Linked DNA regions of Homo sapiens: regions 2 and 3 are each linked to region 1. The links come from fine-mapping of genetic effects on gene expression. A gene starts in region 1. Each other region holds a variant in brackets. All regions are shown on one strand. Distances are from middle to middle.

Region 1 (4,242 bases):
CTGATGTGAATGTAAAATAGTACTACTTTAGAAAGATGGCAGTTTCTAAAAACTTAAACATATACTTGCCGGGTGCAGTGGCTTATGCCTGTAATCCCAGCACTTTGGGAGGTCAAAGTGGGCAGATCACGAGCTTAGGAGTTCAAGACCAGCCTGACCAACATGGTGAAACCCCGTCTCTACTAAAAATACAAAAACTAGTCAGGTGTGATGGCGCGTTGCCTGTAATCCCAGCTACTCAGGAGCCTGAGGCAGGAGAATCTCTTGATCCCAGGAGGCAGAGGTTGCAGTGATCCGAGATCACGCCATTGCACTCCAGCCCGGGCGACAGAGCAAGACTCCATCTCAAACAAACAACAAACAAACAAACACACCTATCGTATAACCCAAATATTTCACTCCTAAGTATTTAAGAGCAAAGGAAGTATATGTCCACATGAAGACTTATACACAAATGCTCATAGTGGCTTTATTTGTAATAACTGAGAACTTGGAACAACTCAAATGTCTATCAGCAGATGAATAGTTTATCAAACTGTGGTATATCAGTAAAATGGAACGAATGTTAAGCAATAAAAAAGGAATGAACTACTGATACATGCAACAACATGAATCCATCTCAAAATCATTTCGTTGAGTGAAAGAAGGCATGCACTGTATTATTTCATTTATATAAAATTCCATGAAAAGCAAACTATAGTGACAGAAAGCAGATCAGTGGTTGCCTGAAAAGTGGGTGGGAACAGTGAAAGGCACAGATAGCAAAAGTTCACGAGGAAACTTTTAGAGGCTTTGATATGCTCATTATGATTTTGGCAATAGTTTCACAAATGTATGTTCATGTCAAAACGCATCAAATTTTACAACCTAAATATGTGTGGGTTATTGTATGTGAATTATTTTTATTATTATTTTATTTTTATTTTTTGAGGCTAGTCTCGCTCTGTCACCAAGCTGGAGTGCAATGGCGCAATCTCGGCTCACTGCAACCTCCGCCTCCCAGCTTCAAGTGATTATTCTCCTGAATCCGAGTAGCTGGAACTACAGGCGCGCGCCACCACGCCCGGCTAAATTTTGTTTTTTAGTAGAGATGGGTTTTCACCATGTTAGCCAGGCTGGTCTCAAACTCCTGACCTCAGGCAATCGGCCAGCTTCAGCCTCCCAAAACGCTGGGATTACAGGCGTGACTACCGCGCCTGGCTGGGTTATTGTATGTCAATTTTTACCTCCATAAAACTGTTAAGGCCTGTAATCCCTGCACTTTGGGACCCTGAGGCAGGCGGATTACCTAAAGTTGGTGAGTTCGAGACCAGCCTGACCAATACGGAGAAACCCTGTGTCTACTAAAAATACAAAAATTAGCTGTGCATGGTGGCGCATGCCTGTAATCCCAACAACACGGGAGGCTGAGGCAGGAGAATCGCTTGAACCCGGGAGGCAGAGGTTGCTGTGAGCCGAGATTGCACCATTGCATTGCAGCCTGGGCAACAAGAGCGAAACTCCGTCTCAAAAAAAACAAAACTAAACTAAAACACTGTTAAGGGCAGTTAAAACCCAGCCCATATTCCCAGGCTGTTTTTTTTGTTTTGTTTTGTTTTTTCTTTAGGGTTGAAAAAAAACTAAATCCCCATTCACCGCACACGGCACTCTTCACTAACCACGAGAAACCCCACCCAACACCATCCACCGGGTCCCTCCCTTGCCCTCCTAATCCCGCCAGCGAGGTGTCTTCTCTCTGCCGCCCGCTAGAGGGCGTGTACAGAGGAGGTCAAAGCTCTTGGCTCGCTAGCTCAGCCCCAACGCCTGCATGAACTTCCGGCTACACGCCATTCCGCTTCCCGAGGAACGCTTGGGCTGTTGTACGGGTTCCCTACGGGACTCTGAAGGCTGAGGATATCCGGCCCGGAGCGTTTGTGCGGCGCGGAGTTAAGCGCCCCGGCAGTAACTTAAGGGAAGTGGACCAGGGTTGCCGCTGCCCAGAGCGGTCCTTTAGTTTCCACTGGAGTGGAGGGAAGAGTGCTGCCATGGCAGCCCCTGCGCAGCCCAAGAAGATCGTGGCCCCTACGGTGTCCCAAATCAATGCGGAGTTCGTGACCCAGGTGAGCTCGGGCGAGTCTGGTGTGTGTGAGTGGGTATGGACGTCGTGGCCCCGAGGCCTGGTGGTGGGGTTTTTTTTCAGGATTTAGGAGTCCGGAGGAGGCATTCGTTTGTTAATTGATTCACACACGTCTTTTTACTGAGTATCAGCTCCGTGCCGGCCACTATGCTAGGTGCTGGGCATACCGTGGTGAAAGAAGCTGCCCTGCCCTGGGGAGTTCATGGCCCAAGGAAGACAGACGCATGAAAATAAAACTACTGTATGAGTTTTGCTGTGTTGGAGTTTGTCTCAGGAGCAATGGATTCAGAGAGGAGGGAACACCCCAGTCTATCTGAGACTGGCAAGTAGGCTTCGCAGCAGAGTGATGCTGGACTGCCTCTTCAAGTAGGAGTAGGCTTTTTCCTGGTCCTTAGAGTGTCCTGAGTTTTTGAGCAGCGATGAGAAACTGACAAGACACCTCCAAATAGACCTATCTAAAAACAGAGTAATTCTGTAGTTTGAGAGCGTTCATTTAGAATCTGTTTACTATCTTGCATTGTGAGCCACAGTTGGCTTTGGATAGGGAACCACAGTCCTGTGGTTGTCAGCATCATTCCTCATTCTTATTATTTATTTGTGAATTGCATAAGAGTGTAAGTAGTTCAATGTAGAAGTTATCATGCCCACCTGCTTCTTTATTCTTTATTCCTTGTCTCAACAGATTTGCCAGGGCAGAAGCCTAGGGAGTGATTTTGAATCCTCCCTTTCCCTTAGTCCCTACATTTCTACATTCTAAATATCTTTTGAATCTATCTGGTGTTCTACATCTCTGTCACCCTAAGCTTGGTTGCCATTGTTTTCTGCCTGGACCAAGGTATCGTAATCTGTTATATTGTCCTTCCTCTTGCTCTGCTCTAGCCCATTCTTCATGTTGCTTTCCGAGTGATTTCATACAAGTGCAAATCTCATCATATCACTTGCCTTCTTAAAATTTCTGCCTTCCGGCCGGGCGCAGGGGCTCACGCCTGTAATCCCAGCACTTTGGGAGGCCGAGGCGGGCGGATCACGAGGTCAGGAGATCGAGACCATCCTGGCTAACACGGTGAAACCCCGTCTCTACTAAAAATAAAAAGAAAAAAAATTAGCCGGGCATGGTGGCAGGTGCCTTTGGTCCCAGCTACTCGGGAGGCTGAGGCAGGAGAATGGCGTGAACCCGGGAGGCGGAGCTTGCAGTGAGCCGAGATCGCGCCACTGCACTCCAGCCTGGGCAACAGTGCGAGACTCCGTCTCAAAAAAAAAAAAAAATCTCTTCCTTCCTTTCCTTCCTTTTCTTCTTTCAAGATAGGGTCTCACTATGTTGGCTGGGCTCCAGTGAGCCTTCCACCTCAGCCTCCCTTGTAGCTAGGACTACAGGGACTACACTAAGGCTGGCTGTCCTTAAAATCTTCAGCCGGGCGCGATGGCTCATGCCTGTAATCCCAGCACTTTGGGAGGCCGTGGCAGGTCGATCACCTGAGGTCGGGAGTTCGAGACCAGCCTGACCAACATGGAGAAACCCTGTCTCTACTAAAAATACAAAAGTAGGCAGGCTTGGTGGTGCATGCCTGTAATCCCAGCTACTCGGGAGGCTGAGGCAGGAGAATTGCTTGAACCCGGGAGGCGGAGGTTGCAATGAGCCAAGATCGCACCATTGCACTCCAGCCTGGGCAACAAGAGCAAAACTCCGTCTAAAAACGAAGCAAAAAAAAAGAAATCTTTAAAGAATTCTAATTACCCTTAGGTTAACGGCTGAAATCCTTCATAGTGTTGTGTGATTTGACCTGTGCTTATATCTTCAGTTTCCTCTTTTTCCTCTTCCTTTCTAACTCTGTGCCTTAGCTGTACAGAACTTCGTTTATTTGAATGTGCCATGCTATCTTTCATCTCCTGGCTTTTCAACATTGTTCCTCTGCTAGGAATCCTCATTTTTTTTCTCCCCACCTTCCTTTATTCATTCTCAGCCTTCTACACTACTTTAGAGAGGCTTTTCCTGACAACTTAAACGAGATTAGAGGTCTCTTTCCCCATATACCTGCATTTTTGCAGTAGAAGTCATTTATTAGTTTACTTCTGTCATGGAACTCACATTTTAGAGGGAAGAACCAGACAGATGAACGGTATAGTTT
Region 2 (4,242 bases), 120 kb after region 1:
GTATATCAACAGACTATTGAATGCCAACTCTGTGCCAGGCAGCAATGCCAAAAACAACTCTAGTACTTTATAGATGAGAACACCAAGGCATTGGGTGATTTGCCTGGGACACCACAATTAATTGAACAGGGACTAGAACCATCATGTAACTTTTAGGCAAATTTCTTACCATGCTGCCCTTTAAATTTCTTTGCTTGAGACACATTAAAGAACAGAACAACACCAACTGTGCATGAGTAAGACAAGCCTACTAAATAATTTCTCTTATGGTCAATATACCAAAAAGACTAGGTTGCCAAAATCAGGGTAGAAAATAAAAGGTCTCTAAAAAGAATGTCCCAATGTTTACAATATTTATTCTTACAGGAGAAAGACAAATTAGTATTTGTTTTGGTTTGAAAAAGGAATGAGAAACACATAATAGAAAGGGACTCTGGTAAGTAATACTGTATGCCTAAAAATGCTAATTATCCTAAAGTCATTTTATATTTAAGCAGAAGCAGAACATGTTAAGTAATAATAGTTTTAAAAGTGTGATTTCTGAGTGTGTTACCTTGACTCAGCTTCTCAGGAGAAGTGACCGGGACCTGGTGTCTGCTCCTGTTGCCTTTGTCTCTTAATCCCTAGCCACTATGCGTGAGCACATCTCCATCCACGTTGGCCGGGCTGATGGCCAGATTGATAATCCCTGCTCAGAGCTCTGCGGCCTGGAACACGGCATGCAGCCCGATGGCCAGGTGCCAAGTGACAAGACCACTCGGGGAGATGACTCCTTTAACATCTTCGGTGAGACAGGTGCTGGCAAGCATAAGCCCAGGGCAGTGTTTGTAGACCTGGAGCCCACATTCATTGACAAAATTCACGTTGCCATCTACCACTAGCTCTTCCACCCTGAGCAGCTCATCACAGGCAAGGAAGATGCTGCCAATAACTATGCCCAAGGGCACTATACTATTGGCGAGGAGATCACTGGCCTCATGTTGGACCAAATTCTCAAGCTGGCCAACCAGTGCACAAGTCTTCAGGGCTTCTTGGTTTTCCATAGCTTTGGTTGGGGAACTGGTTCTGGGTTCACCTCCCTGCTGATAGAATGTCTGTCTCTTCATTATGGCAAGAAGTCAAAGTTGGAGTTCATTTACTCAGTGTCCCAGGTTTCCAAAGCTGTAGTTGAGCCCTATAGCTCCATTCTCACCACCCACACTACCCTGGAGCGCTCTGAGTGTTCCTTTGTGGTAGACATCTGTCATAGAAATCTCAATATTGATTGCTCAACCTATCAATAGCTAGTGAAGTCTCTTTAACTTTAACTGCCTTATTCATCAGTTTATGCCCTCTATGCTTCCCTTAGAGTTGATGGCTTCCTGAATGCTGATCCCTGTTATCTCTGCTGAGAAAGCCTATCATGAAGAGCTTTAGAGCAGAGATCATCAATGCTTGATTTGAGCCAGCCAACCAGATGATGAAATGTGACCTTCGCCATGGCAAATGATGGCTTCCTGCCTGTTGCACTGTGGTGACACCATAAAGATGTCAATGCTGCTTTACCACCATAAAGACCAAGCACAATATCCAGTGTGTGGATTGGTGTCCCACTGGTTTCAAGGTTGGCATTAGTTACGAGCTTCCCATGGTGGTACCTGGTGGAGACCTGGCCAAGATACAGAGAGCTGTGTGCATGCTGAGCAATACCACAGCCTTTGCTGAGACCTGGGCTCACCTGGACCACAAGTTTTGACCTGGTGTATGCCAACCATGCCTTTGTTCACTGGTACATTCGTGAGGGGGGCATAGAAGAAGGGTTTTCTGAGGCCCAATGAGGACATGGCTGCCCTTGAGAAGGTTTATGAGGAGGTTGGTATAGATTCTGTTAAAGGAGAGGGAGAGAAAGAGGAGAGAAATATTAATTATCCATTCCTTCCATCCCTGCAACATGTCTTACTCCCAGAATTTAAGCTTCAACATTAATTGACAGGCATCAAAGCTTTCTGGTTAGATTGTTTACACTCAGTGGAGATCAATGTTCCATCTGTACCTGTAAGATTATTGGCCTTTTGAAGGCCTCCAGTACAATGCTGAAAAGAGGTAGTCAGAACAAGTATCTTTGTTTCTTCCCAGTTTTAGGAGCAAACTTTCAATATTTCACCACTAAGTATAGTGTTTGCTATAGGTTTTTGCATACACTCTGTATCAGGTTTTAAGAACTTCTTTCTATTCCTAGCTTGCTAGGTGTTTCTTTTTTAATCATTAAC[G/A]TATGCTGAATTCTAACAAATGCTTTTTCTATATCTATCAAAATGATCGTATGCTTTCCTTTATTTATTTATTTTTATTTTACTTTAAGTTCTGGGATACCTGTGCTGAACGTGCAGGTTTGTACATGTGCCATAGTGGTTTGCTGCACCCATCAACCCGTCATCTAGGTTTTAAGCTCCCCATGCATTAGGTATTTGTCCCAATTCTCTCTCTCCCCAATCATATGCTTTTCTTTATTTTGTTAATGTGGTGGATTACATTGATTTATTTTTTCTATCGATTGAATTTTTTCTAATTAGGGCCATAAGTTGCTACTCTTCACATGCCTGGTAATTTTTCACTGGATGCTGGACATTACAAGTGCTGTGTTGTTGGATGTTTGGATTTTGTTGTCTTCCTTTAAAGAGTGTTGAGGTTTGTTTTGGCAGGCAGTTACATGTGGATTAGATCTACCTTTTTGATGTTTGTTTTTAAGCTTTGTTACACAGGTGTAGAGTACCTTTACTCTAGGGCTAACTTAGCTCTATTACCAAGCTATGACCCTTCTCTGGCCCCTTTTGGATGCCCCAGGTTTTCAATGAAGTATTTCTACTTGGGTTGATATAAATTAAAACCTTTTCTATTGTATGAGCTCTAGGAATTGTTTAGTAGAGCTCCCAGGCAGTTGTCCTTTGACCTCATGAAGTTTCACCCCATGCATGTACAGATTAGTATTCAGCCAAGACTCAAGGGGACCCCTCTTTAGATTTCTGGAGACCTTTCTTTGTGTAACTTCCTCCTTTTAGTTACTATCCCTTACAAATTCTAGCCAGCACAGTCTTCCCAAGTTTCTGTCTCTTAAATTCAGTGAGACTGCTGGGCTTCTACTTAGGTTCCCCCTAGGTAAAGGCAAACTGTGCTGCTCTTCAAAAATTGCCTGTAGGCAAAAGCCAGGGCAATCACAGGGCTAACCTTTTTCCTTTTCTTCCTCTCCAGGATGACGAAACTATGCTGCCTGTTGGTCAATGTCTGAAAATAGTTGCTTCATATATTTTGTCCACTTTTACTTGATTATAGTGGGATGTACTGGGATGAGCAGAAGTAGAAGTTGACTTTTTTTTTTTCAATTAATATAAAATTAACCTTACAATCCTAATCTTTTTTTATAAGTGCTATATTACATTTGCTAGTATTTTATTTGGCATTCTTGCATTTATGTTTATGAGAAAGATTGGTCTATCAGAATAATAATTATTATTATTGTACCATACTTGTCAGGTTAAATATCAAGATTAGAGTGACTTCATAAACTGAATTGAGAAATTGAGAAGTCCTTTTTTTTTTTTTTTTTTTTTTTTTGAGACGAGGTCTCATTCTGTGGCCCAGGCTGGAGAGCAATGGTGCAATTTTGGCTCACTGCAACCTCCACCTCCTGGGCTCAAGTGATCCTCCCACATCAGCCTCCCAAGTAGCTGGGACTACAGGTGCACACCACCATGCCTGGCTAATTTTTGTATTTTTTGTAGAGACAGAGTTTCACCATGTTGCCCAGGCTGGTCTCAAACTCCTGGACTCAAGAAATCTGCCTACCTTGGCCTCCCAAAGTGCTGGGATTACAGGCAGCAGGGGGTTTGTTGTTGTTGTTGTTGTTGTTTTTTGAGTACTCTATTTTTATTCACTGGAAGTGTTTTTTGTAACATTGATATTATTTCTTCTTTAAACACTTGGAAGAATTCAACAGTGAAACAATCTAAGGCTAGATTTCTTTGTGGGAAGATTTTAAATTTCAGATTCAATGTATTTATCAATGTAAGACTACACTATTTCTTCTTGTGTTGGATTTGATAAGTTGTGTTATCTTAGGAATTTGTCCATTATAAAGCTGAATTTTCCGATTTATATTGGGAAAAGTAATATATAATATGTTCATAGCACAGCTTTAGCTATATCCCACATGCTGTATCACATTTTCATTAACATTCTGCTCAAAATGTTTTCTAATTTCCATTGTGA
Region 3 (4,242 bases), 30 kb after region 1:
ATGCTAAGTGTTGATGCATATATTTTTCAGACTTAGCTCTTTAAGTTTTGAAATAAAAAATTAATTGATTATTGAGCTTACAATCTTGATTTGTATTTTTATTAACAAGAGCTAGAGTTGAATAATTTTTTAAAATATCGTTATTCATTTCTTAATTTTCAGGGTTTGTCATGTTATTTTCAGGTTTTATCAGATTGCTCTATTTTGTACTCATATATTAGAAAACTAGCAAATAGTTGATCTAATCCTTATCCTTGTAAACTTTGAGGCTACTGGTAATTTAATAACACATCTCTTCTTCAGGCACGATTGGAATTAGAATTAAAAAAGACACCTAAGCTAAGAAAATTCTGGAACTTGATTAAAAAGAATGATGAAAAGATGGATCCAGAAGCAAGAGAACAGTATGTTGGCAGAGCTTCATTTCATGTTGGCTTATTATGCTGGATTGTGGACCTTAGATGATGTTGACTGGTTTGTTGTTTCCCTTTATATAGTGCTGAGTGCAAATAAATTATTATAATAAGTGCTTTTACCTAGACTGTCATTAAGAATATTTTCCACAAAGATCTAAAGCAGAAGCCAGAGCATCATGCTTTTCTTCTTTTCCTTCTTTCTGTGCTGCTAAGTATATATAGTTGACCCACTGTTTTTCTCCCTGCCTATTGTCCGTCTCCCTCATGGATGGTTCTCAATTTTCTCCACTATCTTCAGGCTATTAATATAACTTCTCTTTCTTTTTCTTACTCCTTCACTCTTTTTTTATTTTTTTGAGACGGAGTTTCGCTCTTGTTGCCCAGGCTGGAGTGCAATAGTGCGACTGTGGCTCACTGCAACCTCTGCCTCCCAGATTCAAGCGATTTCTCTTGCCCCAGCCTCTGAGTAGAGGGGATTACAGGCATGCGCCACCACGCCTGGCTAATTTTGTATTTTTAATAGAGACAGGGTTTCTCCATGTTGGTCAGGCTGGTCTCAAACTCCCGACCTTAGGTGATCCGCCTGCCTCGGCCTCCTAAAGTGCTGGGGATTACAGGCGTGAGCCACTGCACCCAGCCTAACTCTAAACTTCTTACAAGGTTTTCAGAAGCTTGCAGCTGTTTCTTGTGACTCTTGCAAATCACTGGACTACTCTAGTCATTGCTTCTTTAGCATTTCTTTCCTAAGTCCCTTTCCTCTTCACTCCACTTAATTGAATATTAACCATATAAACACTCTTCCAGACCAACTACTTTAGATCATAGTGCTTTCATCTGAACTCCTAGAACACATGCTCTGTGATTTTTTTTTGAAACACCAGCTGTTTATGTAATGATTGGGATATGTATAGTAGTTGAGGATGTAGGTTCTACAATCAGACTTAGCTAGATTCCACACTCAATTGCTGTATGACTTTGGGCAAGTTACTTCACCTCTAAGCCTCATTGTGAAATCTGGACAGTAGTACCCATTTCCGAGGACTGTTATCAATATTAAATAAGATGTGAAGTGTTTAGCATAGCTCAGATCCTGGCAAAATGCGTGCTTAATTAATGTCAGGCAGTTTTATTAATCACATACTGGCATGTATTACTAATTGTGTTTATAATATATGACTTGTTATTGCAAGTAGATTTTAGCCGTTCCCCTTCTTTGTATTTCCAGCAGGACTGTTACAAGCATTTACAGCTGTACGATACTTGATACATGTCTGTTCATTAATGGATATATCTTAAAGTAGTAATGAATAGAAAATTATTTTTTAAACATTTGATCTTTAGCTATTGTAATACTCTATTATACTTAAACGTTAAAATATAATATTGTTCATCTCATTTTAACTACATTAAATGTGAGATTTTTAATGGTAAGGGCAGACTATAAATGGAATTTTGAAACTTCTTTCTCGGTCTGACTTGTAAATCACAAATGAAAATGTTTGGCTGGGAGCTGTGTCTCAGGCTGGGCGCCATGGCTCATGCCTGTAATCCCAGCACTTTGGGAGGCCGAGGCGGGTGGACCACAAGGTCAGGAGTTCAAGAACACCCTGGCCAAGATGGTGGAACCGCATCTCTACTGAAAATACAAAAATTAGCCAGGCATGGTGGCAGGCGCCTGTCATCCCAGCTACTCGAGAGGCTGAGGCAAGAGAGTTGCTTCAACCTGGGAGGCAGAGGTTGCAGTGAGCTGAAATCGCGCCACTGCACTCCAGCCTGGGCAACAGAGCGAGATTCCACCTCAAAAACAAAAAAAGCAGAAAAAAGAAAACGTTCACGGTGAGAGAAGGAGGTGCTTGCTTAGGTGGCTTATTAGGTCAGTAATGTGACTCTCCTTTTCTTCATATAGCACTGTATTTACATAGAAAGAAGAAGCTGTATATTGAAGTTATAGTCCCAGCTTCACAAAGAAATGAACAGTTGAACAATATTGGAAAGCCGTGGTCAACATTTAAAGTTTACTTTTGAAATGACTATTCTTCAAAAATAATTGGTCAATGTTCTTTCTGATTTTAGGGCATATCAAGAGAGGAGATTTCTTTCACAACTCATCCAGAAGTTTATCTCTGTGCTGAAATCAGTCCCACTTTCTGGTA[T/ACTAT]CTTCTTTTTTACTCAGTGCATTTGTGAAATTATCATATAGCTGCCCCTATGGTATTTACTCATCTCTAATCTAAAAACTGTTCTTGGAATGATTTTAAATTGTATTGGCAAAGTGTATGTCCTCTCCTTTTTAAATACATTACCAGTGTGAGTATTGGGACTGCCTTTAAGGGTTATTTTATTTTATTTATTTATTTTTTGAGACAGAGTGTTGCTCTGTCACCCAGGCTAGAGTGCAGTGGCATGATCTCGGCTCACTGCAACCTCCCCCAGCAGGGTTCCAGTGATTCTCCTGCCTCAGCCTCCCGAGTAGCTGGGATTACAGGGATGCACCACCATGCCCAGTTAGTTTTGTATTTTTGGTAGAGACGGGGTTTCTCCATGTTGGCCAGGCTGGTCTCAAACTCCTGACCTCAAGTGATCCATCCACCTCAGCCTCTCAAAGTGCTGGGATTACAGGCGTGAGCCACTGCACCTGGCCTAAGGGTTATTTTAAAGGCACCAGTGTGGTTATTGAAATATTCCTTTATGTAGCAAATTTTTTATCACCTAATTACTAGATCCAGGTCCTGTCTAAGGTGCTGGGATACAGTTGTGAAGAGGAAAATTACAGACCATATTTGCATGTTATTTATAATATGGTGCTGAATAGTGTTTTTAAGTCCTATTGATACCGTTGGAGGAAAAAAGGAGAAATATTACTGAGATATGAGCTAAAAGACTAAATAGAAGGATTTTCCTCCATCATAGCTCCATTTACTGATTTAAAAAGTAAGTATATATATATACTATATTAAAATTATAAAATATAATTAAAATATAATTGTTTAATTATTATTATTTTTTTTTGAGACAGAGTGTCACTCTGTCAGCCAGGATGGAGTGCAGTGGCACAATCTTGGCTCACTGCAACCTCCGTCTCCTGGGATCAAGCAATTCTCCTGCCTCAGCCTCCTGAGTAGCTGGAGTTACAGGCGTGTGCCACCACGCCCGGCTAATTTTTGTATTTTTAGTAGAGACGAGGTTTTACCATGTTGGCCAGGCTGGTCTCGAACTCCTGACCTCAGGCAGTCTGCCTGCCTCGGCCTCCCAAAGCGCTGGGATCACAGGCGTGAGCCACCACGCTTGGCCAATTGTTTAATATTTTTAAGTGGAATATAATCTAAGAACAGCTCTATAGGTATACCATATTTATATAGGTATACCATATTTATATTTTTGCATCAGAAAGTACAGCTTTTAAAAAAACACAATGGAATGAGTTATAAATGCTGACCCTCCAAGTAATATTTTACAATTGAAAATCTTAGCTACGATTCAGTGAGGAATTGATACCAATGCAGTAAATCAGTTGTATCTGACTTAGGGCACAGTACTACTACTAGCATTAGTATAAAGAAAATGTTTTGGCCGGGCGCAGTGGCTCATGCCTGTAATCCCAGCACTTTGGGAGGCTGAGGTGGGTGGATCACGAGGTCAGGAGATCGAGACCACAGTGAAACCCCGTTTCTACTAAAAAGACAAAAAATTAGCCAGGCGCAGTGGCAGGCACCTGTAGTCCCAGCTACTCAGGAGGCTGAGGCAGGAGAATGGTGTGAACCCAGGAGGTGGAGCTTGCAGTGAGCCGAGATTGTGCCACTGCACTCCAGCCTGGGTGACAGAACAAAACTCA

Which allele goes with the higher level. Alleles are on the strand shown, and positions count from the first base shown. SD is a standard deviation of normalised expression in the study named. Not every link is listed here.
For the expression in subcutaneous fat of the gene that starts at base 1,896 in region 1, allele T in region 3 goes with a lower level than allele ACTAT (small effect, 0.29 SD a copy in GTEx).

The links. PIP is the estimated chance that this variant, and not a neighbour inherited with it, causes the effect.
Region 2: its variant is the best candidate, but not a certain one, in a credible set for the expression of AQR in monocytes (TOPMed, PIP 0.54).
Region 3: its variant is the best candidate, but not a certain one, in a credible set for the expression of AQR in subcutaneous fat (GTEx, PIP 0.63).

Annotation. Positions count from the first base shown.
Region 1 is chr15:34,967,396-34,971,637 of GRCh38, reverse strand. AQR (aquarius intron-binding spliceosomal factor) reads left to right here and starts at 1,896. Exons shown (of 35, transcript NM_014691.3): 1 at 1,896-2,099. The coding sequence starts at 2,025. RefSeq lists enhancers at 1,793-1,902, 1,953-2,102, 3,271-3,835.
Region 2 is chr15:34,846,786-34,851,027 of GRCh38, reverse strand. It overlaps the pseudogene TUBAP11. Among named protein-coding and RNA genes, the nearest start is that of ACTC1, 53 kb to the right of the region's middle. The variant G/A (reference allele first, on the strand shown) is at 2,250.
Region 3 is chr15:34,937,061-34,941,302 of GRCh38, reverse strand. It overlaps AQR (aquarius intron-binding spliceosomal factor), which reads left to right. Exons shown (of 35, transcript NM_014691.3): 8 at 304-404; 9 at 2,490-2,566. Among named protein-coding and RNA genes, the nearest start is that of AQR, 31 kb to the left of the region's middle. The variant T/ACTAT (reference allele first, on the strand shown) is at 2,570.